Regions from separate parts of the Homo sapiens genome. Here all the other regions are linked to region 7. The links come from fine-mapping of genetic effects on gene expression. Tissue or cell type: whole blood. Region 7 holds a variant in brackets; each other region holds the start of a gene. Each region is shown on its reference strand, or each on the opposite one.

Region 1 (4,068 bases), not on the chromosome of region 7:
AATAATAATAGTAATAACTGCGACCACCTATACAAATTTCATCTATACATCCCAGGTATTGTGCACCCTCCATACAAATGTATGAAAATTCACAGAAAGCCTGTGCTTGGTCAGTGCTATCATCAGGCCTATTTGGCAGATGCAGAAACAGGCTCACAGAAGGGAAGTCACTTGCTGAAAGCCACATGGCTGGCACGGGGTGGCACTGAGACTTGCACCCAGATCTGGGCAGCATTAAAACCCCTGCCCCACCCGTGGTCCTCTCCTGTCTCCGTGTTAGCGTGGAGCCCTGAGATGTTTTAGGAGCCGGCTTTCCGATTTCCATCTGTGTTTGTGGTGATTGCCCTGATCTTTCAGGCATTCTGCCCTAGAAAGCCCCTTGGGGAGGGGGCTTCCTGTTTCACCTGCTTGGACGTGGCTTTGGAGCTAAGACCGAGAGGAGTCAAGGTGGGATTCCTCGGATGCCCTGAGGGAGTGCGATGGGATGCCTGGGGGCTGCTCCTCCAGCCTCAGACACTCCTGCCCACAGCCCCTGGCCAGGCCCTGCCTGAGCCACTGCTCTAGGCTGCAAAGGGCTGGCTCTCATTTCCTAATTCATCCTGCCAGCTGGAGCCAAGGTGGACTCTCCCCATAGACTGGGATGAGTGCCCTGGCCCAGCTGGACCTGGTGGTGGCTATGAGCCCCCTTGTGTCACCTTTTCCCTACCCAGGGCTCATCACAAGCTGCAGGGGGATGCTCTTGGGTCTCAGGGAGAGTGGCCTGAGTCCCCCGGGGCTTCTGAGTGCATCCAGGCTGCTCTGCTGACCCTGGAAGGCAACCAGGGAAGCTGTGAGGTCAGGGTAAGGGATGGGCCTCAAGAGCGGGTCATGGCCCAGCTGGGGCCTGTGTGGACAGAGGCCTCACTGTCTCCACTGCATGCAGGGAGTCTTGAGGCCAAGTGACACATTTGCCACCTGTGACATACGCCACCAGCCCGTGTGTCTGTGCCCCAGATACAGCCAGCCAGTGCAGAGTGAGGCCTGCCAGGGCCCTGTGTTGTGGGGATGTGACAGAGCTGCCAGTCCTGGTGCAGGTGAGACGTCACCGCCATCCCAGCTGGTCTCCACCTGGAGGACAATTTGGGGACCTCCTGGCACCCTCATGCGTTCCCTCCCCCTTGTTCTGCGTGACTGCCTGTTTTAATTCACATGTCCCTTTCTAAGACTTACAACTGCATTTCTCATAAAGGAAATTATTGGCACAGGGGATAATTGTGATCCAACTCTCTGGCTTCACTTAGAAATCGAGAGGGTGGTCAGTGGGGTCCCACTTACGAGAAGTTCCGGATGGCAGAACAGTACTACAGACATCATGGTCCTCAGGAGGATGCTGTCCTGCCCCAGAGAGGCCGCCGAGGGCTGGCGGAGGGGACCTGGAAGGCAGGTGGGGTTGACTGAGATGTGCCAGGTCGGGAGGGAATCCCAGGGCGGGGACCCTAGAGAAAGCGTGGCACATCTGTGGAGAGCGGACGGGCCACGCTGGGAGTGGAGGGCTGAGGGCTATGTCAGCCCGCTCCAGCAGGAGGACATGAGCCAGGCCTGTCCAGAGGGCTTCTGCAACCTCTTCTGGAAAAAGGACCAGGGAGGTACCTGTTTCATGCCCAGGAGGTCATGATAGTGCCTATCAGCGTTAAATGCCATCTGGTCCTTGCCTCGCAAGGAGCCCTGTCCCCTGGTTCACTGGCTTAGGGGTGCCCCTCAGGTCAGTGTTTCCCCAGTGTGGGGTGGGCACCCTCGGTGACCTAGGAGACAGTGACGTCAGGGATCACACAGCCTCATACCACACAAAGGTGATTCCCTTCTCTGTCTCAGCCCTCTGGTCCCCTGGAGGGGAAGCTTGCAACTCCCCAACGCTTTTCTATCAAAATGCCATCGGCAGGCAACAATAGCCAGCTAGAATTTCCTAACATTGCTTATTTTAATTGTAATTTATTTTTACTTTTACCTTCTATTTATGGCCCATGATCTTAGTTTTTTTTCCACCTAACAGTAGTCACATAAAGTTCCCTTATGGATGCATTTACCTAAGTAATAGCAGTGAATGCTTTTAAAGAAAAATAGAGAGCAAATAACAGAATAAGGTGCCACTGGAAGGGCCGGGTCAAGAGGAGGGGGTGGACGGACCTGTGGGTGGCACTGGCTTTTCGTAACTCAGGAATCAGGAAGTGTAGTTGACACTTGTTTTGTTATGTTTGCTCCAATGGAAAAGGAAGCTGTGGGTGGAGACACATCTGACGGGAGGGATTTGGATCCTGCCAGCTCGTCCCTGCAACCCCCTACTCCGGTCCCCTCAAACCTGTCCGTGGCTGGCAGCCCTGTGATACCTCGCCACATTCTGCAACAGAATCCGAGATAGAGGTAGAAGTGGGGGAGTACGTCGTGGCTGTCAGGGCAGCTTTCTGTAAAATGCTGCCTGGAGGAGCATGTGATTCCAGACCCTCCTCTCTGCAACGAAAGTGAGGTTGACACCTGCAGGTATGATTGTAACACGACTTTTAGTTCAGGTGAGCGCAGCCTTCCTCTCCTGGAGCTCTGGCTCATCCAGCCCTGAGCTCCCCAGTCCAAGGCTCTCCGGGTACCTTGGGCAGCCTCCCTAGCAGGGCGGTGGGATCGGACCAGCTGTTCCCGGCTGCTGGTCCGTTCCAAGCTGCAAGGGCCTAGGTGCGGAGCAATGACCGGCAGGCCGAGCTCCCTCCCTCCCTCTCGTTGCAGGCCTGGGGCCTCCTGGCCCACTGAGCAGAACACACAGAAGCTGGGCCCACCCCTGCCCTCCCCACAAAGGGTCACGGGAGCCACCGCCTGACTTTGAAGCCCACTGACTTGCGGCTGACAAGAGAAAAGGTATTTGGAATTAAGTGAAGGGCGGGAGGCAGGGGCGGGCTAGGCCCTGGGGTCACATAGCTGCAGGCACCTTGACTGCAGCTGCCGTTGGCCCCAGTCCCTTACTTTCTAGGGTTCTGCAGTGGGCCAGAGAAGGGACTATTATTATTATTTCATAACATTTCATCCTGGCTTATTTCTAGCCCCTCAAACGGTGTCCGTACAGGGTTGAACTGCCAAGGGCTCCCAGACCCCTGCTGCCAAGGGGCGGCTGGCTTGTGGTGGCTCTGGGGAGGCAGTGGTGCCCGTCACTGGCACTGGGGAATCTTGTCTGACTTCCCTTTTCCTCCATCTCCTCCCCAGGGCCCGGCTTTTCCTGTGCCCTTCATTTTCCTCCCCCTGTTCTGGGACTTGTGGGTGTCCCCAGAGCAAATTCTTGGGGAGCCATGCCCAGCCGGTCTAGGGGGCACTCAGGGGCTTGCATTTTGTCAGGCTCCCTCGTGGTCTGGTGTGGGTACTCTGGGGACCACATTTGGAGAACCTGGGCCCCCCAGTTGTTAACTAGCAGACGAGGGCCTGTACTTAGGGGCCATTGTCCAGCGTTTAGTGCAGAGTGACTGGAGAAATGGGAGGACCAGACCCTGTGATGGGAGTGAGGGTAGGGGGCACAAGATGGGCCGCCACCCTCCAGGATCTCCTGGTTCACACCAGTGCCTGCGAGAGGCCCCTGGGGCCTCGTGAAAGCACAGGTGGCTGGTTGCATCCCAGGGGTTCTGATTCCCAGGACTGGCCAGGCCAGAGAATCTGAATTTCTGACAAGTTCCTGGGCAAGGCCAATGCTGCTGGCCAGGAGGACCACCCTTTGAGAACCACAGGTGGACACCAGCAGCCGCAGACCCGGCTAGGACCAGGGCAGAGGCCACGCCCTCCCCATTCCCCCGGAGCTGCCTCGGCCCTTGGAGGAATGAGCAGGACCTAAACAGGAACCACGTGATGATATTGACGTGGCACCTGCATGGGAGCACTGCTGCCTGTCCACACTGAGTGCGGCTTCCAAGACCACCCGCAACACACACAGCCCTGCAAGGCGGGAGCTCACGTGCCCCTCACTTTACAGGCGAGAAAGCTGAGGCTCAGAGAGGGCAAGTGACCTGCATAAGGCCACACAGCCAGCAAGTCAGGGAACGGGTGGCCAAACCCAGACCTGCC
Region 2 (4,076 bases), not on the chromosome of region 7:
GTAATTTTATTACTTTCCGTAGCAATCCAGGGGTAGCATCTCAGGTCTCTGGCTCCTTCTTGTCTCCCCTAAAGAAATAGACCACCAGGGCTGGGATTAAGGTGAGACAAGTGAGACATAGAGGGTGCAAAATGTAGAGAGATGCCCGCTGCCAGGTGCCAGCCTGCACTTGTGTGACCCTAGGTGCCTTCCCTTCCCTCACCCTGCTGGTATCTGCTGGAAACACCTTTGAGAGCAGGGACTTTGGCTTTTAGACAACTCTTTAGCATCTCTCATGGTGTTAACATGTTGCTAGGTGCCTATTTTGAGGGTCACTAGATGCCTACTGATACTAATGAACAATGGATTTCTGACAAACTGATGTGCACACAGATGTTTATATTTTAGGGTAAATACGAACCTTAAAAGACAACAGAACAACATGGAGAGGGCCTGAGACTGAGTCTAGAGACCTGGATTCTGGTTCCCTCCCTGCCATCAGTTGGTTATGGGAACTTGGATAAATTGCTCCTCATCTCTAGGCTTCAGGGAAATGAGGTGGTTGAATAAAACGTATTGAGCACTTACTGTGTGTCAGCCATTGTTCATATGCTCCCAGGCTTTAACTCAGCTAAAGACTTCCTGGCCTCTGTGGTTCCTTCCACTTCAACAGGCTGTGGTTTGAGGTGGGAAGACTTCGTAGAGAATGCAAAACTTGAGAGACATCTTCCAAATTCCCAGGGGGATGTTAATACCTTTAATCATAGTAAAGGTATGGTTTCTCAAGGCATTTCTTGGTCAGAAGAAAGTTCCAGAAGGCACTTAATCCTAGGACTCACACTACCAAGGCTACAGCCAGGCCAACTGCCTCACAATAACCTTAGAACATGTCTGAAGACAGATTTTCAGCTTCTGCCCCTAGAGATTCTAATGCAGTGATTCCAAAGTGGGGTCCAGGAATCTGTATTAAAGGCTTCCCAGTTGACTCTGGTGGTCAGAGAGATTTGAGACTGATTCCATCACATTCCCCATCTGTGAACGGGATCATACCTAGACAGCCCAGCCCTAGAACTGCCTGGTCTGATCCTAAGTGTTCCATGGAGATTTTGTTTTTTTAATGTAATGAATGATTAAGTCAGCAAATACTTTACATCTCTTGTGTGCTAGGCCCTGTGCCAGGTGGTGATTATGGGCCCTATTCTCAAAGGACTCCTGGTCTCCGTCTGTCACTTACTTTAGAAACAAGTCATCTAGCCAGAGCCAGAAGGGCACTGGAGATCACTAATCAATCCCATCATTACATAGCTGAGGAAACTGAGGCCCAGAGAGTAACTGCAACATGTTAAAGACTACACAGGGAGCAAATTTATTTTCTGCTTCTAAGCCAGGTGGTTTGGCCACAGATAGGCCAAGAAGAATACGAACAGACAAGCCTTGCTGGGTTTCCCACTCAGTTTATTACTATTAGACCATTCCCTTTTTCCCCACTCACATTTCTGCGCATTTCCATGGTCTTCATAGAATCTAAGCCTAAAAATAGAGTTTTCCTTGAGTCTTTGGGTCTTCATTTCTGAAGACTCTCATGTCACAGAAAACTTTAATTAAATAAATCGTTATGCTTTTCTCTTGCTAACCTTTTTCTACAGGCATGTCAGCTGTGATCCTTATGATGGGGAGGAAAGGCACCCCACCTTCTCTGTCCCTACAGTCCTAATGCCCTACCCAGAATGGGGTTTTCAAAATCCCAGGACACCCACTCTTTGTTTCTTAAGCACTAAACCTATATATAGTAAATGTTTCTGGAAGTTTAACTTCAGCTCTTGCTGAAATTTTAAACCCTCAATTTCCAGAGGACCATCGCCAGGTGTTTTTAAAACCTCGATAGGAATAAGAAATGCTTCCCAGAATGGAGACTTCCATCAGTTCTAGGGAGCTATTAGCCCCCTTGCCCTGGCTGTAATGGAGACCGCTGTGTCTGCCTCCTTTCGCACTTTGGAGCCAAAAGAGGAAGGGACCGCCTCCCACGTCCACAGGGACCTGACTTCCACCTCTCTGCCCAGATTTGCTTATGTCACTGTCGCCCCGGGACGGGGAGGTGGGGAGCTGAGGGCAAGTCGCGCCCGCCCCTGAAATCCCAGCCGCCTAGCGATTGGCTGCAAGGGTCTCGGCTTGGCCGCGGATTGGTCACACCCGAGGGCTTGAAAGGTGGCTGGGAGCGCCGGACACCTCAGACGGACGGTGGCCAGGGATCAGGCAGCGGCTCAGGCGACCCTGAGTGTGCCCCCACCCCGCCATGGCCCGGCTGCTGCAGGCGTCCTGCCTGCTTTCCCTGCTCCTGGCCGGCTTCGTCTCGCAGAGCCGGGGACAAGAGAAGTCGAAGGTGAGTGAGCCTCCGGGCCGGGGGCCGGGAGAAAAAACCTAGCCCCTCGGTGTCCAGCGCTCAGTGCAATGCACCCCTTTTCCCAGGCTCCCCGCCAGATGGGCAATCCCCAGGTGCGAGAGACCTCCTGAACCCCTTTTGCCGCCCCCTCCGCCGCCGGGACCCCGCCCCCGACCGTCGTCGTCTCGTAGTTCCATCTGTTGGAGAGCCGAGACCTGGTGCTTCAGGCGGGCAGAATGACTAAGGGAGGAAGGTCTCTCTCCCCGAGCTCGCACTTTCTCCCCACTGCCACCTCGAGGGTCGCCTTGCTACATCTATGTCACCTCCGTGCCTGAGCTGCTCCCCTTCAGTAGGGCCTAAGAGGGAGGGCGTCACAGAAAAAAATGCCCAGCGTCTGGGTGGGCTGTGCAAGTTCCCAGGGAGAGAGACAAGGAGAAAGGAGAGAGGCAGCTGGGTGGTCCTGGTCCTGAAGAACTGCTGTGGGGGGCTCTTCTACCCCAAGAATGATACAGGCAGGTAGAAATGGCCACTTGGATTCAGGGCATTGGTAGAAGAGGCAGAGATCTGTGCTAGAAAGAGCTCTGGAGTGACAGTGCAGAACACTCAGGACCCTGAGTCCTTACCTGCTCCTGGACCCCCGTTTCTCCATCTGCAGGGGAGAGTTTGGGGGTGGGAGTGCATGGGGCACAATGAAGCTGAGGGCCTCAGAGGGGATGCTTGGAGAAGCTGAAAAATCCACAAGCTGTTCTCTGAAATTTCCTCCCCTGGGGCAGCCTCACTACCCAGGACCCACTGTCCTCATTAGCCTGAGGAAACCTGGTAGTTGGAGAAAGCTGGGGACTGCTAATTCAGAAGAAGAGGTAGAATTCTCTAGAGCCTCAGTCTATTTCCAGCAGGTGTGTGGCCCACACCTGGAGTGGGGATACTGAGGCCAGGAGTGGGATGACCCAGCATGCTTATCTCCTTTGACAGTATGTACTGGGGTGGGCTCTGTAGACCTCTCCTCTACCCAGGGAGTGGGAGTGGGTGGGGAAGGAGGCAGAAGCCAGGTGTAGGGATAGACTCAAAGCGAGCGATTTCTGTCTCCAACTTCCCAACATGCATAACTCACATTTTTGCAAGCTCTGAGCTTTTGTTTCTAAAATCCTCTGGGTCTTCACTTTAATTAAGTTCTTATGAGTCTAGGATTCCGTTTCCAAAATTCTGTCCACTTCTCAGGAAGCCCATTGGAAGCACAGGGTTCCTTCCATGTTACTCACCCCTTTTCGGTCCTCAGCCTAAATCCGATTAATCAGCCTCTCCTTGGAGTCAGTCTAAATGGATGTGAAGCCACTTCGTCCAAGTCCCCTCCTTTTTATCCATCCCTGTTCATAATCCCCAACTCAGAAGGCATTTTCCAGGTCAGGAATGGGATCGATTTTCAACATTGAGGTTTGGGGTGGGCCATAGACAGGCCAGCACCGTGGAGTCAGTCCCAACCTTCAGTTTTGGAAAGGTCAAAGAAGATACAATTGGGCCCTGCCTCAAGAAGGCTAGTGGGGAGAACGTGGACTCCATGAATAACTCATCATAGCTGTGTCTTCTCTGCAGCACTCTGGGGAAGGATAAATGGACTCAGAGAGAATAGGATGGGGATGGTCTAGAAAAGTTTTAGGGTGAGGTGTGATCATATCACATACAACCAGTCAGGACTTGCTGGCTAATGAAAGCCTGGGCA
Region 3 (4,066 bases), not on the chromosome of region 7:
GCTGGAGCGCAGTGGTGCGATCCTGGCTCACTGCAACTTCCACCTCCCGGGTTCAAGCAATTCTCCTGCCTCAGCTTCCTGGGTAGCTGGGATTACAGGTGCAAGCCACTACACCTGGCTAATTTTTTTGTATTTTTGATAGAGATGGGGTTTCACTCTGTTGGCCAGGCTGGTCTCGAACTCCTGATAGGTGATCCACCCTCCTTGGCCTCCCAAAGTGCTGGGATTACAGGCGTGACCCAACGCGCCTGACCTGAAATAAATATTATTTAATTAAAAAACTAAAAGCATTACACTAGAAGAAACAGACCAAAGAGAAATCTAAAGAGATCAGTTGGACAGAGGAAGGTGGTGGGAGGAGGGCCTCTCTTCCATTGGCCGGTGGGAGGCAGCAAATGTCAGATGGTGGATGGGGGTTTTAGAGGTGGGGGTTAGCATGAGAGGTAGGGCACGGCGATAGGGGGGGTGCTGTCCATGCAGAGGGAATAACCAGTGCAAAGGTCTTGGGGTAGGAGGCAGGAAGGTGCCTGGTGAGTTAGAAGAACAGCGGGTAGGCTGGATGGGGGGTGTGAGCCAGGGGGAGATGAGGAGCTGAAGTCAGAGAGCTGACAGGGGCCTTGGGTGCCAAGGTGAGGACTTTGCTTTTACCTGGAGTGAGGTACAGCTGGGGCAGGGCTCTGAGCCAGGAGGGTAGTTAACTGACTCAGGTGGTCCCAGGCTCTCTCTGGCTGCAGGTGAGAACAGACAGTAGGGGCAGGGATGGGAGCAGGGAGATCAGGCAGGAGAGGATGGAGGCTGGGCCAGGGCGTGGGCAGCGGAGGAAGAAGAGTTTAGAATGGAGCGATTGATTTTATACGTGGAGCCCACAGTTTGTGACGGATTGGATGTGGTGTGAAGGAAAAGAGAGGGTCAGAAAAGACTCTGAAGTTCTGGGCCTGCCATTCATCAAAATGGAGAAGTCAGGTGGGCTTCTTTTGCAGGAGGAGGGGAAGGGTTGATGGAGAGGGTTGGGAAGGGAGTTTTTTCAAAAGAGGCGGGGACAGCGTACCCTGGAGAGCGCTGGGGAGCCACAGCCCCGGAGCTGTGAGGTGGGACTCGCATTTCTGTGTGGTTGGGCCAGGAGTCCAGGACACCACCTGACTCTGACCTCTTGCAGACGGGGCGGGGGAGGGGGGACGCAGGTTATGGCGTCAGAGCAGGATCGAATCCAACTCTGCCGCCTACCTACCAGGTGACCCCAACAAGTCACTTCCCATCTTAGAGGCCGGGCTTCTCCTTCCGTAAAAGGACTGATTTTGCCCGTTCCTGCGCTGTCCCCGGGAAAAGCCCTTACCACCGAGTTAGTGGGACTCCCAGCACTGGGGTGATGAGCGCAAGGTCTCAGCACAGATAAGAGCCAGGGAGGCTGGATTCTGACTTGGTACTTGGCCTGGCTGACCAAAACTGGGAAGTCCCTAGAAACGGAGGCACCGGACCTCCTGGGACCAGGAACCCGGGCTCAGAGACTGGGAGAGGGAAGGAGGAGGCGGCCAACCGGCCCCACCCCTTCCCGCCAGCTTCAGGCCCCCTCCCCCATACATACACCTCGGTTTCCCAGCATCTCCAGTCCTCCCCCACCTTCGCCCCGGCTCTCAGGTTCCTCCCTGGGAGGTCCAGGAGCTTCTGGCCAGGGGCATAGTAGTTGCTAGGGACCCTTTTCTAGGTACTAGGGGAGGGGGCTCCCCAACCTGCGGGCAGGCAGCTGCCTCCACGATGTTTGGTTTTAATAAAGTCTCTTTGTTTCCTTCTCTGTCTCTCTGCCCCTCTGCTTTCCCTTCTCTGTCCAGTCCCTCTCTCCCCGGCTTCTCCCTCCTTCTAGGCCTCTGCGGCCCCTCCCCGCCTTCCCTCCCGGGCTGGGGGCGGCGCCGTGACGCGGCGGGGCGGGGGAAGGAAGGGGGTGTCGCTGACGCCGCGGCGGCCTCCGGCGGCTCCGGCCTTTTGTGCGGGCGGTTGGGTCGGGTGGGGGCGGCGGCCGCGGAAGGCCAGGCCGGTGCCCTGCGGGGACGCCCAGCGCAGCCCAGCCCCGCGCAGCCCAGCCCTGCCCTGCCCTGCCCTGCCCTGCGCCCGGGGCGCGCCCACCGCGCCGCATCCATGTTCGAGTAAGGACCGGGCGACTAGAGCTCAGGGACCGGGCGCGCGGGGGAGGCCACCGGAGGGAGGGGGCGCCGCGGGCTTGGGGAGGGGGCGGAGCGGCCGCTGCAGAGGTCGGGGGCCTCTGCACATGGCTCTGGCCGGGGCGATCGGGGTGGGGGCGGGGCAGGGGGCCCCCGGGCGAGGGGTGCAGCTGGGGAGTGGGGCGCGGACGCAGGGCAGGGCCCGGGGTCTGGGTCGCCACTGCCGGCCCGCGACGCACTGGGTTGCGGGGTTTGGCTGGGGGCCCGCGGGTTCATCTGGCGGGGAGGGCCCTCAGGCCTGGCAACCCCCTGCCTGGTAAGCCAGGGGTGAGCGCGAGGCCGAACTGGGGCTCCGGCCTGGGATGGAGACAGGATCGGGACCAGCCCAGGCCCACAGGCCGCGGAGCCCTGGGCGCGCCGGGAGTAGGCAGCCCCCTCCTGCCTGGGCCCCCTCCCACCGTCCTTGGCTGTTGCGGGTCTCGGGGCTGCCGGGGGTGGGGGCTTCCTGCGTCTCTCCAGGACCGCGTGCTTGAGGTCATGGAGGGCGGGGGGTCCTGTGTGCTCGGAATTGACTTCTTACTCCCCTTCCGGTCCAGGTGGGCGCATGTGCTTCCGACTGTGAATTGTCTTGCAAGTGTGTGTACGTGTGTCTGGGGCTGCTAGCCTGCAGCAGCTTTGGGCCTCTGATAGAGTTCCTGCGTGTAACTTAACCACTAATTCTGACCGCGGCTCTGTGTGTCACTGTAAGTTACCTGTGTGTGTCTGGGGCTCCAAATCTGTGGCTGTGAGCAGCTGGTTGTGTGCGTGTTGTGTCTCATTCCATCTGTAGCTCCCTGTGCAAATATAAATTACCCCTGTGTGTCTGAGTGTGACGTTGGAGTGTTTGTACATGTGTCTGGAGTTACCGTGTGTAGCAGCTCTGATCCTTCTTGGGCTGTGTGTGTTTTACCATTAATTCTATCTGTAGCTCCAAGCGTTGCTGTAAGTTACCAGTGTGCGTCCCATTGTGACTTAGTGGTGTGTGTACAAGTGTGCCTGGGGCTCTGGGTTCTACCATGACCCTCTGTGCCTGCATATGCCTGTAATTTAGCTCTGAAACGCTCTTCTTTTTTTTTTTTTCTTTTGAAATAGAGTCTGGCTCTGTCGCCCAGGCTAGAGTGCAGTGGCACGATCTCGGCCCACTGCAACCTCCTCCTGCTGGGTTCAAGCAATTCTCCTGCCTCAGCCTCCTGAGTAGCTGGGATTACAGGCGTGTGCCACCACGCCTGGCTAAGTTTTGTATTTTTAGTAGAGATGGGGTTTCACCATGTTGGCCAGGCTGATCTCGAACTCCTGACCTCAGGTGATCCACCCACCTCGGCCTCCCAAAGTGCTGGGATTACAGGCTTAAGCCATCGCGCCTGGCTTGAAACTCTCATTTAGCTCTGTGTGCCAATGTAAGTTACATTTGTGACATTGTTGTGTGTCTGGGGCTCTGTGAGTGTGGCTGTAACTTAATTTGATTCCATCTTTGTGTGAACATTCCCTTGTGTATTCCTTTGTGACAGTATTGAGTGGTGCCTAGGCCTCTCTGTGTACAGCTGAGACCCTCTGTGGTTTTGTGTGTGTGTGAACAGTGTGAGACCCCTTGTGGCTCTCTGTAGGCTTGGAACCCTCCCTTCTAAGACCCTGGGAGTACCCAGGGCACTTTGGAGGCAATAATGATAACTGACGTTGTCCACCTGTTACAGTTAGTATAGCATGTGCCACGCATTATTCCACTACCTGGCCACTGTGTCCTCGAGATCCACGCCCTGCTCGGCTGCATTATTCCCAAGTCCTGCTTGACTGTGAGCATCAGGGCTCTCCACCAGCTACAGCCACTGACACCTCCACCCCTTGCCACTTTACTTTTTCTTTTCCTTTTTCTCTTT
Region 4 (4,076 bases), not on the chromosome of region 7:
AAAAAATTAGCTGGGCATGGTGGCACATGCCTGTAATCCCAGCTAATCCGGAGGCTGAGGCATGAGAATCTCTTAAACCCCAGAGGTGGAAGTTGCAGCGAGCAGAGATCACACCACTGCACTCCAGCTTGAGCAACACAGCAAGACTCTGTCTTTAAATAAATAAATAAAAATTTAAAAACAGAAAAAAGAAAAATTGCTTTATTCCCCAGAGTTCCAATAAAATCCGTAAGAGATTGCTTCTCCTTGGCCTGTTCTGAGTGCCACGCCCAGGTCTCCAAAAATCACTGTTGTCAGGGGATGAAGTGCTCTGATTGGCCAGTCCTGGGCCCCTCACCTCCCTGGAGCCATGAGGAGGCTGGTTTCCAAAAGAGAACTCCAGGTGCTGTTACCTGGATACAAGAGAGTACTGGCTGGGTAGAAACCCCAGAAACCTTACAACATAATGGTTATTAACTGCATCGTAAATATTTACTTTTTCCTACAGTGGTCTCCTGACCTAGCTAATCACTCCAGCAGAGGCCTTCAGACCAACTATAAAAAAGGCACTTTAGCAAATGCTAATAAAGAAATAACTGTGTCACCTGATAATGACTATTATTAGAGACTTATGGGTGAACCTTAGCCCCTGGGTGGAACCTGAACCTCTCTGGGAGGGAAAAGCATGAGCTTCTAAGTCAGAAAGATCTGAGTTCAAGTCTGAACACTCCCATTTCACTCACTTGCTCTTCATTCATTTATTCACTAAAAAGAAAACATGTAGGCTGGCTAGGTGGTTCATGCCTGTAATCCCAGCACTCTGGGAGGCTGAGGCAGGAGGATCACTTGAGCCCAGAAGTTTGAGACCAGCCTGGGTAATATAGTGAAACTCTATTTCTACAAAAAGAAAAAAAATTTAATTGGCTGGGAATGGTAGTGTGAGACTGTAGTCCCAGCTACTCAGGAGACTGAGGCAGGATTATTGCTTGAATCCAAAAGGTTGAAGCTGCAGTGAGCTATGACCGTGCCACTGCACTCCAGCCTGGCTGACAGAGTGAGACCCCGTCTCAAAAACAAAAACATGTATTGAGCACCTGTTATATGCAAGGCACTGTTCTAGTCACTAGGGACATAGCCACAAGCCAGACAACATCCCTGCCCTCCTGGATCTGATATTCAAGTCGGAGAGGTGGGACTAAGGAGGGAGAGACAGATAATACAAGTGGACAAATAAATAAATCATCTAAAATAGCGGTAAATGATGTAAAGAAAACAAAACAGTGTGGCTTGCTAGCAAAGAGGTGGGGAACTGAGTTGCAGCAGGCATTAAGAAAGGCCTTTTTGATAGAGTGATGTGTGTGAATTAAGCCAAAATAATAAGATACAGTCAGCTTTGAGATTACATGAGTAAGGTTCTAAGGAGAGGGAACGGCTCATGCAAAGCCCCTGAGCTGGTGCCTCCAAAAACTGGCAGAAAGCCCCTGTGAACGGTTGTGTGATGGTAGGTGAGTTACTTAGCCCCTGTGCACCACGAGAAAATGGGGATGCTCATATCTACCCCTCGAGGTTGCTATGAGGATTCAAATTAGGCAACCCTGTTACAAGGTTAATGCTGTGTCCGGCATATAGTAGGTGTTCAATAAACACCAGCTATTAGTTTGAGTAATATAATTATTAATTTGAGGAGGAAAGAATGGACCTGGGGAGTGAGAAGGGTGAGGAAAAAGTAGCTAGTGTAGCTTATCCTTCTAGAATCTAAAATTCAGGATATAGTCTGAGCAAGCTCCTGATAACGGGATTCTAAACATGCCTCCAGGACATCCTAGACACCAAATTATAATTAGCATTGACTTCATAGTGACTGCCATTCGTTGAGCGCCTACTACGTGACCAGGCACTACTCCAAGCACCTTGTGTCCACGGCCCTGTCTGACTCTGGGGCAGGCACTATTATTAACGCCTCCATTTTACAGAGGAGAAAAGCTGTGGTTCAGAGTCCAAAGCCCCGTCACCTCCTACCAGGTTGACCTTTGGCCATTCCTTGCCTTTGATGTGAGTGATAGGAGCGGGCGATTCTGCTTCTCCCTCCATCTCCCGGCGGGGATTGTACGGTGAGAGAATGAGAGCAAAACCTCAGAGCCCCCTTCCCAGGAACCCTGTCCCAGCCTGGTCCCCACCCACCACCACCACTGACCCGATGCTAGAGAAGGATGCGGCTGGAGGTGACTTCCCAGCCAACTTGGTGTAAGTCATGTGGGGAAGTGGCCAGGGTAGGGCATGGTCATCGTGAGCAGGGTCCTGCAGGGTGAGGCCGGGGCTGCAGACGCGACTGTACAGGTCTATGAAGACCCCATGTGTGATGAGGAGACCTTCTCTGCACAGTCCCTGGACAGAACACGAGATGAGGGGTCCTCTGGACGTCAGCTCCAGCCACACCCCTACCTGGAGGAAGCTGCTTTTAACAGGTGCGTTGGAGACAGCGGCTTCACCACGGGCCAGGGACAAGGAGGAGAGTGTCTCCTTACGAGTCCAAGTCACCCCCACTCAGAGCTTTGACCCTGTCAGTTTGAGGCCCATGCAGCTCAGGCACCCAACTCATGAGAACTCTTGAAGGCCACTCCGCCACAAGAGATGACCCTATTGGCTTCTTTTAGGAAGAAGGGAAGTGAGGCGCAAAGAGGAGAACAGGTCACCTACCCAAGATCACAGGGCTGGCAAGGGGCAGGATCAGAATTTGGGACCCCAGCCCAGCCCCCTTCCACCAGAATGCCCTGTCTCACCCCTGCAATCCGCAACTTAGTAATAATACATATAAATAATAACAATCATAAAATAATAACAGCCGTAATAGAAGGTCACTGTAACTGAATAGATCTATATACCAGCCTGTTTGGGGTTTTTGTTTTTTTGTTTTGTTTTGTTTTGAGACAAGGTCTTGCTCTGTTGTCCAGGCTACAGTGCAGTGGCCCGATAATGACTCATTGCAGCTTCAACCTGCTGGGCTGAAGCTGTTCTCCTGCCTCAGCGTCCTGCGTAGCTGGGACCATAGGTATGCGCCACCAAACCCAGCTAATTTTTTATTTTTAGTAGAGATGAGGTCTTACTATGTTGCCCAGGCTAGTCTCGAACTCCTGGGCTCAAGCGATCCTCCTGCCTCGGCCTCCCCAAGTGCCAGGATTACAGGCGTGAGCCACTGCGCCCAGCCTGTCAGCCCGTTCTAAGTGCTTTCCTATAGTAACATTTACCTCTTATCACAACTCTTTGAGATCAGAGCTGTACGATCCCTATTTCACAGAAGGGGAAACTGAGGTTCAGAGAGGTCATGTGCCCTCTCCAGGTCACACACTTGGAAGTGGCAGACTGAAGATTTGAAGCCAGATGGGCTGGCTTCCCAGACCACACTTTCCAGAGACCACACACATCTGCCTCTCAGATAGTGAATGAATTGCTTCCTTATCCAGGTCTTAAAAGTTCACTTCTGAGTTGGGCGCGGTGACTCACACCTGTAATCCCAGCACTTTGGGAGGCCGAGGCAGGCGGATCACGAGGTCAGGAGATCGAGACCATCCTGGCTAACACGGTGAAACCCCGTCTCTACTAAAAATACAAAAAATTAGCCAGGCCTGGTGGCGGGCGCCTGTAGTCCCAGCTACTCAGAAGGCTGAGGCAGGAGAATGGCGTGAACCCGGGAGGCGGAGCTTGCAGTGAGCCAAGATCGTGCCACTGCACTCCAGCCTGGGCGACAGAGCACGACTCCGTCTCAAAAATAAATAAATAAAGTTCAGTTCTGAGCCGGGTGCAGTGGCTCACGGGTGCAGTGGCTGGGATTACAAAGTGCTGTAATCCCAGCACTTTGGGAGGCCAAGGCGGGCGGATCATCTGAGGTCAGGAATTCAAGACCAGCCTGACCAACATGGAGAAACCCCGTCTCTACTAAAAACAGAAAATTAGCTGGGCGTGGTGGTGCATGCCTGTAATCCCAGCTACTTGGGAGGCTGAGGCAGGAGAATTGCTTGAACCCAGGAGGCGGAGGTTGCGGTTAGCTGAGATGGTGCCATTGCACTCCAGCCTGAGCAACAAGAGCGAAACTCCATCTT
Region 5 (4,076 bases), not on the chromosome of region 7:
CAGTTTTTGCCTTCTGCCATATTGAACTTAACTGTAGTTCCTCTAGAGCCTCAGTCCCTTTCAGTGCTGCTGGGCCTTAACCAAAGTATTCTCCTGAAATATTTTTCCCTTTAATGTCTGGAAAATAACATGTATTTTTTTTTTAAAGGCTGCCTCCTCTGAGAAGCCTTCCAGGGTCACCTTAGGTAAAACTGATTGTCAGTCTCTCTTTTTGCCAGCCTTACCTATGCCCTGTATGTGCTACTGACATCACAAGTCACTTCATATTTCATCTATTTTAAAATGCACTTTTATTCACATTTTTTAAAAATCCCTGAAATCAGCCAGATGTGGTGGTACAGGTTTGTAGTTGCAGCTACTGAGGAGGCTGAGGCAGGAGGATCACTTGAGCCCAGGGCTCGAGGCTGTAGTGTTATGATCGCACCTGTGAATGGCTACCACACTGCAGCCTTGGCAACACAGGCAGACCTTGTCTCAAAAAAAAAAAAAAAAAAATCCCTTAAATTAGCATGTAACTTATAATCAATGGTGTATCATAGTTCAATGACAGGATTAAAAAAAATTTTGGTGATACCAAAAAAAAGTACATCTTACATTGGAGAGCATTTGGTGAAATGCAGCTTCATTTTCTAACTTTCTAAAGTGAGTGTAGGAGTGCTTCTCATCTTGCCTCCCACCCCACCGCCCCCGCCACCTTTGGCAGTGTCTGGAGACATTTTTGGCTGTATCAACTTGCGGCGAGGAATATGCTGCTGGCATCTAACAGGTAGAGGCGAGAGATGCTGCTAAACATCCTCTAATACACAGGACAACCCCCGACAACAAAGAATTAGCCAGGTCAAAATGTGAATAGTACAGAGATTGAGAAACCCCTACGTAGAGAAACAATACCTATTTGGGTATATAATAGGCTTTATTATGTTTGATTTTAAATAAATCTTTTACAGTGTATAGTGCAACTTAATGTATAGCAACTTTTTCCAAACCTTGGCTTGTACAGAATAGCAACTCTTGAGACATATTCTAAGCTCTCCTCATCACCCCTCCCCAACTCCTTCTGCTAGATGCCCCAGGGAAATAAAATACAGCAATGCTCCTGGTCAAAATCTGAAAGCCAGAATGTCTCAGAGAGATTCGTGACCTTAAACCAATTAGGTTAGTTAATGGCAAGTCCAGGACTGAAACCCAGACCCCCAGATTTCCGCAATCTCACTCAGCCTGGGAGACAGCTGCTCCCTTCCCGGGCTAAATTGGCTAACACAGTTTGGTACCTTAAGAGGAAATGTGCCCTACCTATATGAGCTGGGTGACTTAGCAAGAGTTTAGCATTTAGTATTCACGCTTTAACACCCGGGACCCACCCAGCTCTCACCCCACTTTATGAGAATGTAGGTTGACTCTGTAAGACCCCTTAGCTCTGTGGGGAATTGGATTTATGCAAAAAATAATAGTGATTCATGAATGTGAAGGAACTTTAAATAAATGTAGATGATTTCATCATACAAAAGGCAGAAGGGACTTAGTAAGTGTATTTAAGGCTCTGGAGGAAGCGTTATTAATTTGGAAAGTGGGTGGGGGGAGCTGTCCTCTATCCCTACAAGCTGCACGTGTGGAAAGGGCCTTTCTAGCGCAGGAAGCTGATTTATGTGAGAGAGGAAGGAGTTCCAGGGGGAGGTTTTGGCAAGGCAGTCCCCACATCTCGGTTGTGCCAGCCAGGCGGGCCTCAGGTGGGTCTGGGGCTCCCTGCCCCTCCTGCTGAGTCCCCAGAGTGTCCCCCGCCCCCTTCCTTCTCCCACTGGGGCTGAATCACAGTGGGCAGCAGTGTTTGGGATCCTGCGATCCACCCATCGCCATCCCAGCAGCCCCACCCTTGGAGGATGGGAGGTTACCCTGCACGCCAGAGGGGATGGCGGGGGCCAGACTCACCTTCAGGTGAATGGGAAAGGACCGCTCCTGCTGGAGGGGCCCCAGCAGCGTCTGCTCCACGCTGACCAGCTCCGAAGTCGAGTCCACCACGCGGGCCAGCGCGCTGCGCATCGCCATCTGGGCCAGGGTGCAGGGCCCGCGGTCCCGGGGGAAGGGCAGCAACTCGGCGCCCCCCTCAGCGCCTCGCACTACCTCCTCCTCTGGGGAGTTCGCCCGCGCCGCGGTCCGCCGACTCCTGGTCCCCACGCCCCCGCCCCGCTCCTCGCGCCCGGGCCCCGGCCGGGCCCGCGGCGGGCCTGAGCGACGGGCTGGAGCGGTGGACACGTGGTCTGGGTCCCGCGGGTTCCCGGGGGCGACTGGACCGTCCCCCCAGCCCCACTCCTGCTGCAGCAGCTGCAAGGTCTGCAGAGCCACCATTTGGTGGCTGATGGAGGCCACTAAGGGCGCAGGGCTGGCCATCGCCTCCGCTGGCGGCCCGGCGCGCTCCGCGTGCAGGTGGAGCAGCAGCGAGGGAGGCGGGGGCGTTGGGGTCGCCAAGGTCACATTTTCTAACCCGCGGCTCCTCGGCCTCTGGGTCTCACAGCGTGTGTGGTCGGCCCCGCCCCCGGCTCTGAATCGGTGACCCGTGCTGGCCTCTGCCTTCGCCTGAAGTCCGAATCAGGCGTGTTCTGACCCAAAGCTGCCTGAAGCGCTGCTCGGTGTGCACTTGAAAATCAGCGAAATGCTGAGCGTTGCTTCTTCCCTCTCTCCAGGGCTTTGATGAGAAAACGTGCTGCTTTGTGCGGGCGCATCCATCGGCGGGGATACCCCGCCCCCACCTCCTTCGAAGGATGCCTGCCAATGACCACTGAGGTCTGGGAGGTGGGGGTGCAAAAGACCCACTCTAGGGCAAAAGTACGAAGGGCTCTAGAAAAACTTGCAAAAGGAAGACTGTGCCTTTCCCAACCCGAGGGGAATTTTCAGAAACTTGTTGAAGCAGCCTTCAAGGCCTTGCATCCCCCAAACAAAAGAAGGAGGAGTTGTGTATCTGGAAGTTCTGCTCTTCTCTGCTTTGCTGGGTGCCACTTGAGCACCGAGAGCCTGGTGGCTGAACTAGCATCAGCAAGCCTCAAGGCCCAGGCCTGGCACTGCCCAGAAAAGCCTAAATGTTTTTTTGTGACACTCCCAAAAGACTTAGGCAGCAAGGTTGAAGTTAATCCTTTTATGAGCCATGAACTTAGGGACAGCTGTACAAATAGTTGCTGTTTTTAATTAAACCCAACATGGCTACTTCCTTAACTTAGAAAAAAGCGACTAGCAATGTTATGCTTTGATAGATTGGAAACCATGGGTGTGTGATCACACTTAAGAAAATAGAAGATATTTGAGAGGAGTGGTATGGAAAACCAGTCCGGAGCAGCATTGTTCCTGCTTGCTTTCTGCAAGGAAAACCACTAGACAACCCAACAGCCCAGTAAAGCCAGGGCAATGGTGCATGCCCACGACAGACAGGTGGGCCCTGGCAGACCTGAGGATGGAATTGCATTACTCCTTTGGGAGCCAGACTGCACCCTTGGTGCTGTGCAGATCTGGAGAGGCTTTTGAGTGAAAAGGCCACACTGGTTAGTCTGTGAGCACAAAAGGATCATCAGAAGAGATATGGAGAGGGATGTTGGGTCCTTTAAGGTTTCCTTAACCCTGGGATAGTATGACCCCATATAATCCTCCCAACTTGCCAGCAAAGGTTCCTTCTCCTTCCCAGTGCTTTCTTCGCCTATGAAAACGAATCTGAATGCCAAGGTAAAGAAAACCTTTCTTAAACAAAAACGAGTATGTTCACACTAATTATAACTAAGTAAAAATGCACGTCTGTGCATTGACAGAGAGGAAATTACTTTGGAGGGAAGTAAATAGTTTAATGTTGATTAGATTTTTTTGCCATGAAGTTACTTAAGTTCATAATAAAAAATAGAAAGAAAAAAATTTTCTTTTTAAAAAAAGTCTTCAAATGTTGAAATATATTAGGTTCAGCAGAGACTAACCAGCAATAGCAAAAATGAACCCCTAATTTTCACAGAGCATGTCAGATCTCTAGGGCTGCCTCTCTTTCCAGATACACAGGAAATTCAGTTTCATGGGCTAACCCTTCCACTATCAAATGGCTGACTGCA
Region 6 (4,076 bases), not on the chromosome of region 7:
TCTTCGTTACAAAATTGCCATCATTGCCCAGTGGTCCAGTGACGTCACGGAAGAGGCCGAGGCTCATTCTCCTCCCTCTAATCACCCCCTCGCCAGTTAGCCATGGAATAGAAGAAAACAGCTTGGGGGGTGCGGGGAGGGTCTTCTCCAGCTGTAATGCCAGCTAAGGTGCTTTGGTAGCAAAGCTGGGGGTGAGGAGGCACAGGCTCCTGGACGGAGCCAGGCTCCTGGACGGAGGCCGCTCAGAGTCTCTGCGGCGTCCGCTCGGTCCGCACGTGCTGCAGCACTACCTCCTTGGAAGGGGCCGCGCACTTGTACTCCATCTTGGCCCTGGCGGCGCCCTGCTTCTTGCGCAGGTGGCAGAGGAGCGCCAAAAGCGCCACCACCAGGCACAGGCTCGCGATGGAGATGCCTATGAGCAAGCCCGAATGCACGAGCCCCACGGCCGGAGGAGTCAAGGTGGAGCCGGGCGTCGGGCTGGGCGGGGGCTCGCCAGAGCCGCTGTCGCCACCGTCCACCTTGCCGGAGTCACAGTCGGTGCCAATGTGGCGGGCAAGGGCCGAGTCGGGCCCGCAGATGCACTCGAAGGTACCGGGGAGGTTGTGGCACACCCCGGAGCAGAAGCCGCCGTTTTCGCACTCGTCGATGTCCGTGCAGATGAAACCGTCGTCCAGGATGTAGCCTTCAGGGCACTCACAGCTAGCCTGGGTGTTGGGGTCGCAGTCGGCTGGACAGGCAGTCTGGTTGCAAAACATCTGGCACCTGTGCGGCTCGTGGGGAATGGGCGCGAAGCCCTCGGCGCAGACGCAGAGGTAGCTAGTTTGGTTCAGGGGCTGGCACTGGTACTCGCAGTTGGCTCTGAAGCACGGGTCCACGGGCTCCACACACTCGCCGTCCACCAGGTCGTAGTTAGGGTAGCAGTGGCACTCGAAGCCACCCTGTGTGTTGACACAGCGCTGCGGACACGGACTGGGCTCCAGTATGCAGTCATCCACGTCCTCGCACCGGTGTTGGTCGGCCGCCAGCCGGTAGCCGGTCTCGCACATGCACGAGTAGGAGCCCGGCTGGTCGGGGTTGGGAACGCAGAAGTGCTCGCAGAGGTCGTTGCAGGACTGCGTCGCGGATGCGGTGCAGGAGCGCCCGTCTGCCTGCAGGGCGGCGCCGGCTGGGCACTGGCAGCGGGGAGCCCCAGGGATCGCATTGCACGCGTGCTCGCAGCCGCCGTTCTCCACGCTGCAGTCCCAAGCGCCCGGCGCCTCCCTGGCCCAGTGCCCCTGGACCGCTCCGGGCGGCGCGGTGCACATTAGCTGTAAGCCGAGGGGAGCCACCGCGGCGGAGCTGCCCACCGGCAGCGCCTGGAAGTCCGCTCCGCGGGCCGCGAACGGGGTGCCGTAGGTGATCGAGACGGCGGCAGCCGCGGCGCCGGGCTCCACAGCCAGTGGCCTGCAGGTGGCTGGGAAGTGGAACTCGCAGAGGAAGCCATCGGCCTTCACTTCGCACTGCTGCTCCTCCCAGATCGGCTCGCTGGGCACAGTGGCCTCAGCAGCGGAGACAGCGACGCACAACGGGCCGCAGAGGGGAGCCCCATTGAGGTCGAGCCGTGCCCACCTGCTATAGCTGGTGTTGTTGTCTCCCGTAACCCACTGGAAGCCGCGCAGGGGCCCGAGGCGCTTGGGGTCGCCGCAGCCGGGTGGCAGCTGCAGGCCGATCCAGAGGCGCCGGCGGCCAACGCCGCCGTCGCCGTTCAGTAGCAAGGAAATGACATCGGCAGCCACCGAGGAGCGCACTGTCATTAGGTGGCCCCGCAGTCCGTCGCAGATCTGACTGGCATTGAGGAAGGTCGCGGGGCCCGGGTAGAGCGCGAAGCAGTCGTGCTCGACGCACTGGCTGCCACCCGGCTGCGGCTCTGCGGGTGCGGGGAACCCCAGGCCGGCCAGGGCCAGCGCGCCAAGGACCAGGACCCCAAGCATGTTACCCAGGCGCGCCGCGTGCAGGCGCCGGGGAAAGCGCGGGCACTGCGACAGGGCCGTGCCGGAGCAGAGGGGCACAGGACGCCGATGGCGACAGCCTCTCCTGTCCGTCCCAGCCCAGACACTTCTTGCCGCTGCGCGCAGCCCCTGCGAGGCAGCCTCTGACATGCGGATCGGCCAGGGCTCGAGTTTATAAGTGCCCGGCCCTCCCTCCCTGGACGTTCGGGAAAAGGAAGGAAGTGCCTGGTGGGAAGGGCTGATGCCGCATACTCGGATTGCTGGGTTCTCTGGCCGCCCTTGCGCCCGCCCTCGCGCATGGGATCACCTCGCCGGGATGAGTAAACCCTGCCCTGGCGCAGGGAGGTTCTCGGGCGGGGCCGACAGGGGCAGGCGCCAGGGAAGGCCAGCACCCCTGTAACAAGACGACTGTCCCCGCCCACCACTCGGGCCCCCACGCGTGCAGCCCTCTTTCATCTCTTGGTCCTCCTTTCTTTCTTTTCATACATGTTACAGCCACTTCCAAGGAAAGCCTGGATTGCAAGAGCTCTGGGAACCGGAGACTTCAGAGAAGAGGGCTTTGAATGGGGAGTGGGGGAGGTGGTGCACAGGACCTGCAAGACGCTGGGAGGGGTGATCGGCACCAAGGGCACTTTGGGAGGACCTGCCTAGGACGTGGACTTCCCCGAAGACAGGATCGCAAGGAGAGACAGCTGGATCCTGTCCGCGGCCAAGGTGCCTGGCTCAGGAAACCAGCGGAGCGCGCTTGGCCTCACAGGACAGTGGGTGTGGCTGGGGTGACGGGGCAGGGTGGGGAAGACTGGCCTAACACCAGCGCCCTCTGCCCCATGGCTGGCCAGGGACCCGCGAGTCCCTGGACACGCACTGGCCAACGCCAGACCCCATCTCATCGGGTGGGGAAGTCGCGGGGACACTGTCAGGGCGCCGAAGTCCGGACCCGGCTCAGAGGCGGTGGCAGGTGAATTGCTGCGGCGCCGGGTAGGGGCGGGCGCGTGGGAGCGAGTCAGCCTGGCCAGTTTCGGCCCAGCTTCCGAAGGATGGTGCTTCTTGCACCCCAACAGAGTGGCTGGCAACCCCCCAGGGGAGCGCGCAGGATCCCAGCTGATCCCACCCGGGTCGGCTAAGGAGGTTTCCATTTCGTCCAGAGTCCGAATTGATACCCACGTGCATAGAAACGCCACTTGCTCGGCAAAGGGCACTGAAGAGCCACCGTCCTGTGGATGGGCAGGGTGGGGGGGGGGCTGGAGGAGGACATGGGAATCCGTCACTTTCGACCTCTTCCGGTGGTTCACTTACCGGGAATGCGGAAGAGTGGGTCTCCCCCTCGGGTCGCCCCCATAATGGTGAGAGGCAAACTGTTTAAAAACACCCTTGCCTCTCTCCTCTACTGTCCTCACAACGAGCGCCAGGGGGCGGCGCTGTCGAGCTCTAAACAAAGCCAAGGAAGTTGGAGAAGTTTCGGGCTAAAAAGGGTTAAGGTGTAGGAGCACAGAGTCCTCCTTCTGGGGTTGGAAGCTCCGTTCCCGGGCAGCTCAGCGTGGATTCCGCTGCGTTCACCTCTTGCCTCCAGGGCCCAGTAGATCCTGGGCTTTAAACAAGAACAGAGAGTATGGCGTCTGCCACGTGCGACAGACACGCACCGGTGGGGTGGGCCGGGCTGGACTGGACTGACCTGCAGTGACCAAACGGGTGGGGCGTGGACACTCTGAAAGTGAAAAAGGCAAGCACGACTGTCCCGCCGCACACTCCCCAGCGCCTTGGGGCAGAGAGCCTCCAAACGTCCCGCTGAGTTGAGCTCTTCGCTGGGAAGGCCGCCCCAGCACCCAGGAAACGAAGGAGCTGCTGGACACGGGGGTCTGAAGCTCCCGGAATGCACACAGCTGCGCCTCCCCTGACGCGGACCCCCTGGGAAGAGGAAGGGAAGAGCGGCAGATAGCACAGTAGGGCTTGTCCGGCGGGAGCAGTCAAGCTGTGGCTGCCTAGGCTGAATCAGGGGGTCGTGACTCCGGTGCACAGCCTGCCTACGCGGGACGCAAAAGCAGGGCTGCCTGCGGTGCCGCCATGGGGGTGAGGGTGGAGCTTCAGATA
Region 7 (4,000 bases):
CATTTTTATTATGATTCTTGGAACCTGGCAGAATTTTGACTGCTTTTGCAATATCTCTGTGCTCTCCAGTTGAACTTGGTGGCAATAAAATTAAGAATCTGCCAGTGCCCCCCAAGCATTTCTACTCTGTCCATAATGTTTAGTGACAATTAACTATTACCAGGTGTAGCCACCCTTACTTAATCTTAGTGTTATGGTGCAAGTAATCCTTAGTGAAATTATTGTTCTGTAGAGAATGCTGTGATCTAAGTGAAGTGACTTTCATCCTGAGATGACAATGGAGTTGTTTTTGTCACTGTAAAGGCTGCATTTACTCGCAGTTTTAAAGCATTATTGCTACTTATATATGGTCTCAACACTGATTTTTATATTTGACTTTGTAGCTTTAAGTGTAAAAATTTCTGTTAAGGTTTTATATGTGTTAGTTAATTTTTCCCATTTCAATAACCATGTTTTATTATTGATGGAGTCTCCTAAAAATATACCCTTAAAATCTGCTTGCCCTGTGCCTGCACACATATTTTAAATGTTGGGTATGGAGTCTTTTTTTTTTTTTTTTTAGACAGAGTTTCACTCTGCAGCCCAGGCTGGAGTGCAGTGGTGTGATCTTGGCTCACTGCAGCCTCCACCTCTTGGGTTCAAGTGATTCTCCTGTCCCAGCCTCCCAAGCAGCTGGGATTACACGCCCGCCACCATGCCCAGCTGATTTTTTGCATTTTTAATAGAGATGGGGTTTCACCACGTTGACCAGGCTGGTCTCGAACTCCTGACTTCAGGTAATCCACCTGCCTCAGCCTCCCAAAGTGCTGGGATTACAGATGTGAGGCACCGTATCCAGGCTGTATGGAGTCTTTCTAATCAGGACATAGGCAGACAGTCCTAGCCCAGCTTTATGCCTTATGAGACGCAACAACGTTGAACAGTCATTGTTTGAGGGACAGAGGTTTTACAGATGGATGATAACTAGCATCTGTGGAACATTATTTGTGAAATATAGAAATCAGAAATTCCAGCGTAGCACTGTCCAAGGGGAACATAATTTGACCTGCATATTTGCTGGTCCATTTTTAGTAGTCACATTAAAAAAGAAAAATGACACAGGTGAAATTAATTTGAATATATTTTCTTAATTCAGTATGCTTAAATATTATTTAAGTATGTACTCAATATAAGCAATTGTTAATGAAATATTTTACTCTTTTTGAACTATGTGTTTGAAACCCCGGATGTATTTTTTTTTTATCTTCACCACACATTTCAATTTGGGTTGGTCACATTTCAAGTGCTCAGGAGTCACATGCAGCTAGGGGTTACCTATTGGACAGGCAGGCAGATCTTGAGAGCTCCAAAGAACTGTGTGTCATTATATTGTGGAAAAAAAAAAAACTTTTTAGATTAACCCTTGTTGAATGTTAGCCAAAGACTAGTCATTTATCAACTCTCTAAAAGTAGTTTTTAAATCAATTTGCTTTTCAAAACATTTTCTCAGTGTTGTCACAAATGTATGTGAACATCTGCTTTTTAAGTCTTTCATTTTTTGCCCACATTTGATGTAAAGAAAATCTAGGTCCAGTCCAATTTTAACATCAATTGGGTTTATTTTATGTAGCTGTGTTTTAAGTACAGGTCTTGTACTTGTAGGCATTTTGGTTAAGTACAAAGTAACGAGAATACAACAACATGTGAACATGTCAAACAAATCAGTTTTTCAAAGCTAAGTAGCTGAATTAAATGTAGAAAAACATGACATTTAATTTTTGTCTTCATCCCTTCATTGTATTCCCATGTACTCTATGGTAACTTTTTTAAGTTGGGAAGTCCTCTTTAAATTTTTGAAATGAGGTAGCTGCTTTATAGACATGAGGCAGGTTCCCAGAGAGCGCCCTTGAGGACAGGCTGTAAGTAAACTAAGCTGCAAAGACAGACACCATCACAACTATGGAATTGTTTTGCAAAAATTGTGGAGAGTGATGCCCCTTGATACTTCCTAAAAGATGCTTTTGCAACCTGAT[A/G]AAGCAACCGAGGAGAGGTGGTGAAGGAAAGGCTTTTTTTTTTTTTTTTCAAAGAGAGAAAGAGAAGCAGCAAGCTGCCTGCCTGCAGCCTGAGAAAGCAGTTCCACCTTGGCACCCATGTCCTCATAGCCCAAGCGGGGCCACCCTGGCATGTGAATCTGCTCCGCAGTGTGCAGCCCAGACCCCAGCCTTCCTGTGAAAGGGACACCTCCTGCTGCTAACCGCTGCTCTTCCTGCAGTTCAGGAGACAGCGTGTGCTCCTGTGGCGGCTGCATTTCCTGAGTACACCATGATCCAAAAAGGCACAGATTCGTCATGGAAGCTTTGATTGGGCCGTTACTGTCTTTTGACCTTTCTTGTTTGCTTGCCCTTTTGTTTCTTTCCTCCTTTTTCCTTCCTTCCTGTCTTTCTTCTTCCTTCCTTCCTTTCTTCCTTTTTCTTTTTAATTTTCCTCCTTTCTCTTTCTCCTTTCTTTCCTTCCTTCTTTCCTCTTTTTTTCTTTCCTCCCTCCCTCCCTTTCTTTCTTCCTTCCTTTCTTTCTTCCCTCCTTCCCTCCCCACCCTCCCTCCCTTCCCCTCGTCTCCCTTCCCCTCGTCTCCCTTCCCCTCCCCTCCCTCCCTCCCTTCCTCCTTTTTCTTTCCCTTTCCTCCTTCCTTCCTTCCTCTCTTCTTTTCTCCATCCCTTTCTTCCTTTTAACATTTGATCATGGGTACCATTTCATCAAGATTCTGTTACTTAGGTCCAAGGACTAGTGACCAAATTGTTTTTCCCAGGAGTAAACTTTTCTACAAGACATAGAGAAATGACTGCCAGTGCCATCAGGCACACCATCCTGTGTGATAGGTAACCTAAAATAATGGTACAGCGGGGAGTAACTGGAAGAGTCACAACTACACAAATCTCTTGCATTTTCCTGATCATTAAATGAATTAGGGATTTCCTGGTTTGAGATTTGTGGACAAGGAGAACTACTTCTTTGTACAAGAGGCTTGTGCCAGGAGAAGACACGCTGTGGTTACAATGTTACTGTCTCTAGCTATGGTCATTTCATGTCTTTAACTGAGTGTACCTAGAGTGTAATACAGTGCAGCAGTGATGGGCTGAAGGCCTAATGCACCAGCACACATGCCTGGAAGACCTAACGTTGAGAATCCGCATTTTTTTCATCACTCACATTTATTTTGCATCTCCCTGTTTTGATTACCTTCAGAGACCCAAGCACTTGCTTTTGTATATTTGAGTCTGGGTTTTATTTTCCTTTTAGAAATAGTCCAAAATCCTTTTAGAGCCTAGACCTTTGAATAAAGTGCTAACTTAACCTGAGGAATGCTGTTTTTTTGTTCACAAATAAGGCTTAATTGTGAAGTCGTGAGAATTGCTTTCTGAGCTGACTTATAAATTTACCCACCTCTTTTTCCCCAAACCCCCAAAAAATCCTCCAGAAGGTGAGCCCAGCTTGTTGTAAAAGATTTTGAAGCAGAAGTCCTGGGTTTAAGCTTCAGTTCTCTGCCTTACCAGAATCGGGATGTGTGGGGCAGGCCTACCTCCTCTTTCTTCATCTGCAAAATACATTGAATGAAATCATATTTTTTCCTAAGTATATGACATGTAAAGTGGTATTTCAAAAACTCATTAATCTGCATGACCAGGTCAGAAAAGACACACCTTTTGCCTTGTGTCTAGTGTGTGACTGTCCTCACATGTAGATGACCCAGGCCACATCCGCTGATGTTGTCTTCCTTTACTTCTTTGTCCCTTCCAATGACTCCTTTATGAAGTCAATCAGCAGTGTTTCTAAGCCAGGTTCCTTCTCTTCACACATCCCCAACCCACAGGGCAAGTCATCCACATTTTGCCTCTCTATTTTTTGTGCTTTGGGAAACACATTTTACAACTTCCAAACTATTTGCCTAAGTTCATCTGAGCACATCTAGAATTATTCCACTCCTCTGCATCAGTGCTAAAAGTACAATCATGTATAAGCTGTT

The links. PIP is the estimated chance that this variant, and not a neighbour inherited with it, causes the effect.
Region 1: LINC02975 starts here. The variant in region 7 is fine-mapped to the expression of LINC02975 in whole blood (TOPMed, PIP above 0.99).
Region 2: it holds the start of GPX3, and the variant in region 7 is fine-mapped to the expression of GPX3 in whole blood (TOPMed, PIP above 0.99).
Region 3: it holds the start of GRAMD1A, and the variant in region 7 is fine-mapped to the expression of GRAMD1A in whole blood (TOPMed, PIP above 0.99).
Region 4: it holds the start of IGSF23, and the variant in region 7 is fine-mapped to the expression of IGSF23 in whole blood (TOPMed, PIP above 0.99).
Region 5: DLEU7 starts here. The variant in region 7 is fine-mapped to the expression of DLEU7 in whole blood (TOPMed, PIP above 0.99).
Region 6: it holds the start of THBD, and the variant in region 7 is fine-mapped to the expression of THBD in whole blood (TOPMed, PIP above 0.99).

The regions. Positions count from the first base shown.
Region 1 is chr9:129,280,179-129,284,246 of GRCh38, forward strand. It overlaps LINC02975 (long intergenic non-protein coding RNA 2975), which reads left to right and starts at 2,238. Exons shown (of 3, transcript NR_121587.1): 1 at 2,238-2,514; 2 at 2,752-2,880.
Region 2 is chr5:151,018,383-151,022,458 of GRCh38, forward strand. It overlaps GPX3 (glutathione peroxidase 3), which reads left to right and starts at 2,209. Exons shown (of 5, transcript NM_002084.5): 1 at 2,209-2,359. The coding sequence starts at 2,273. RefSeq lists an enhancer at 3,654-4,076.
Region 3 is chr19:34,998,349-35,002,414 of GRCh38, forward strand. It overlaps GRAMD1A (GRAM domain containing 1A), which reads left to right and starts at 1,975. Exons shown (of 20, transcript NM_020895.5): 1 at 1,975-2,138. The coding sequence starts at 2,131. RefSeq lists an enhancer at 1-35 and silencers at 1,810-2,189, 2,460-2,589.
Region 4 is chr19:44,611,548-44,615,623 of GRCh38, forward strand. It overlaps IGSF23 (immunoglobulin superfamily member 23), which reads left to right and starts at 2,016. Exons shown (of 5, transcript NM_001205280.2): 1 at 2,016-2,223. The coding sequence starts at 2,099. RefSeq lists an enhancer at 3,428-3,929.
Region 5 is chr13:50,841,262-50,845,337 of GRCh38, forward strand. It overlaps DLEU7 (deleted in lymphocytic leukemia 7), which reads right to left and starts at 2,431. Exons shown (of 2, transcript NM_001306135.2): 1 at 1,927-2,431. The coding sequence starts at 2,385. The region is part of intron 4 of DLEU7-AS1 (DLEU7 antisense RNA 1); the gene reads left to right. RefSeq lists an enhancer at 1,361-2,287.
Region 6 is chr20:23,047,535-23,051,610 of GRCh38, forward strand. It overlaps THBD (thrombomodulin), which reads right to left and starts at 2,138. Exons shown (of 1, transcript NM_000361.3): 1 at 1-2,138. The coding sequence starts at 1,970. The coding sequence ends at 243.
Region 7 is chr7:50,340,603-50,344,602 of GRCh38, forward strand. The region is part of intron 3 of IKZF1 (IKAROS family zinc finger 1); the gene reads left to right. Among named protein-coding and RNA genes, the nearest start is that of IKZF1, 38 kb to the left of the region's middle. The variant A/G (reference allele first, on the strand shown) is at 2,013.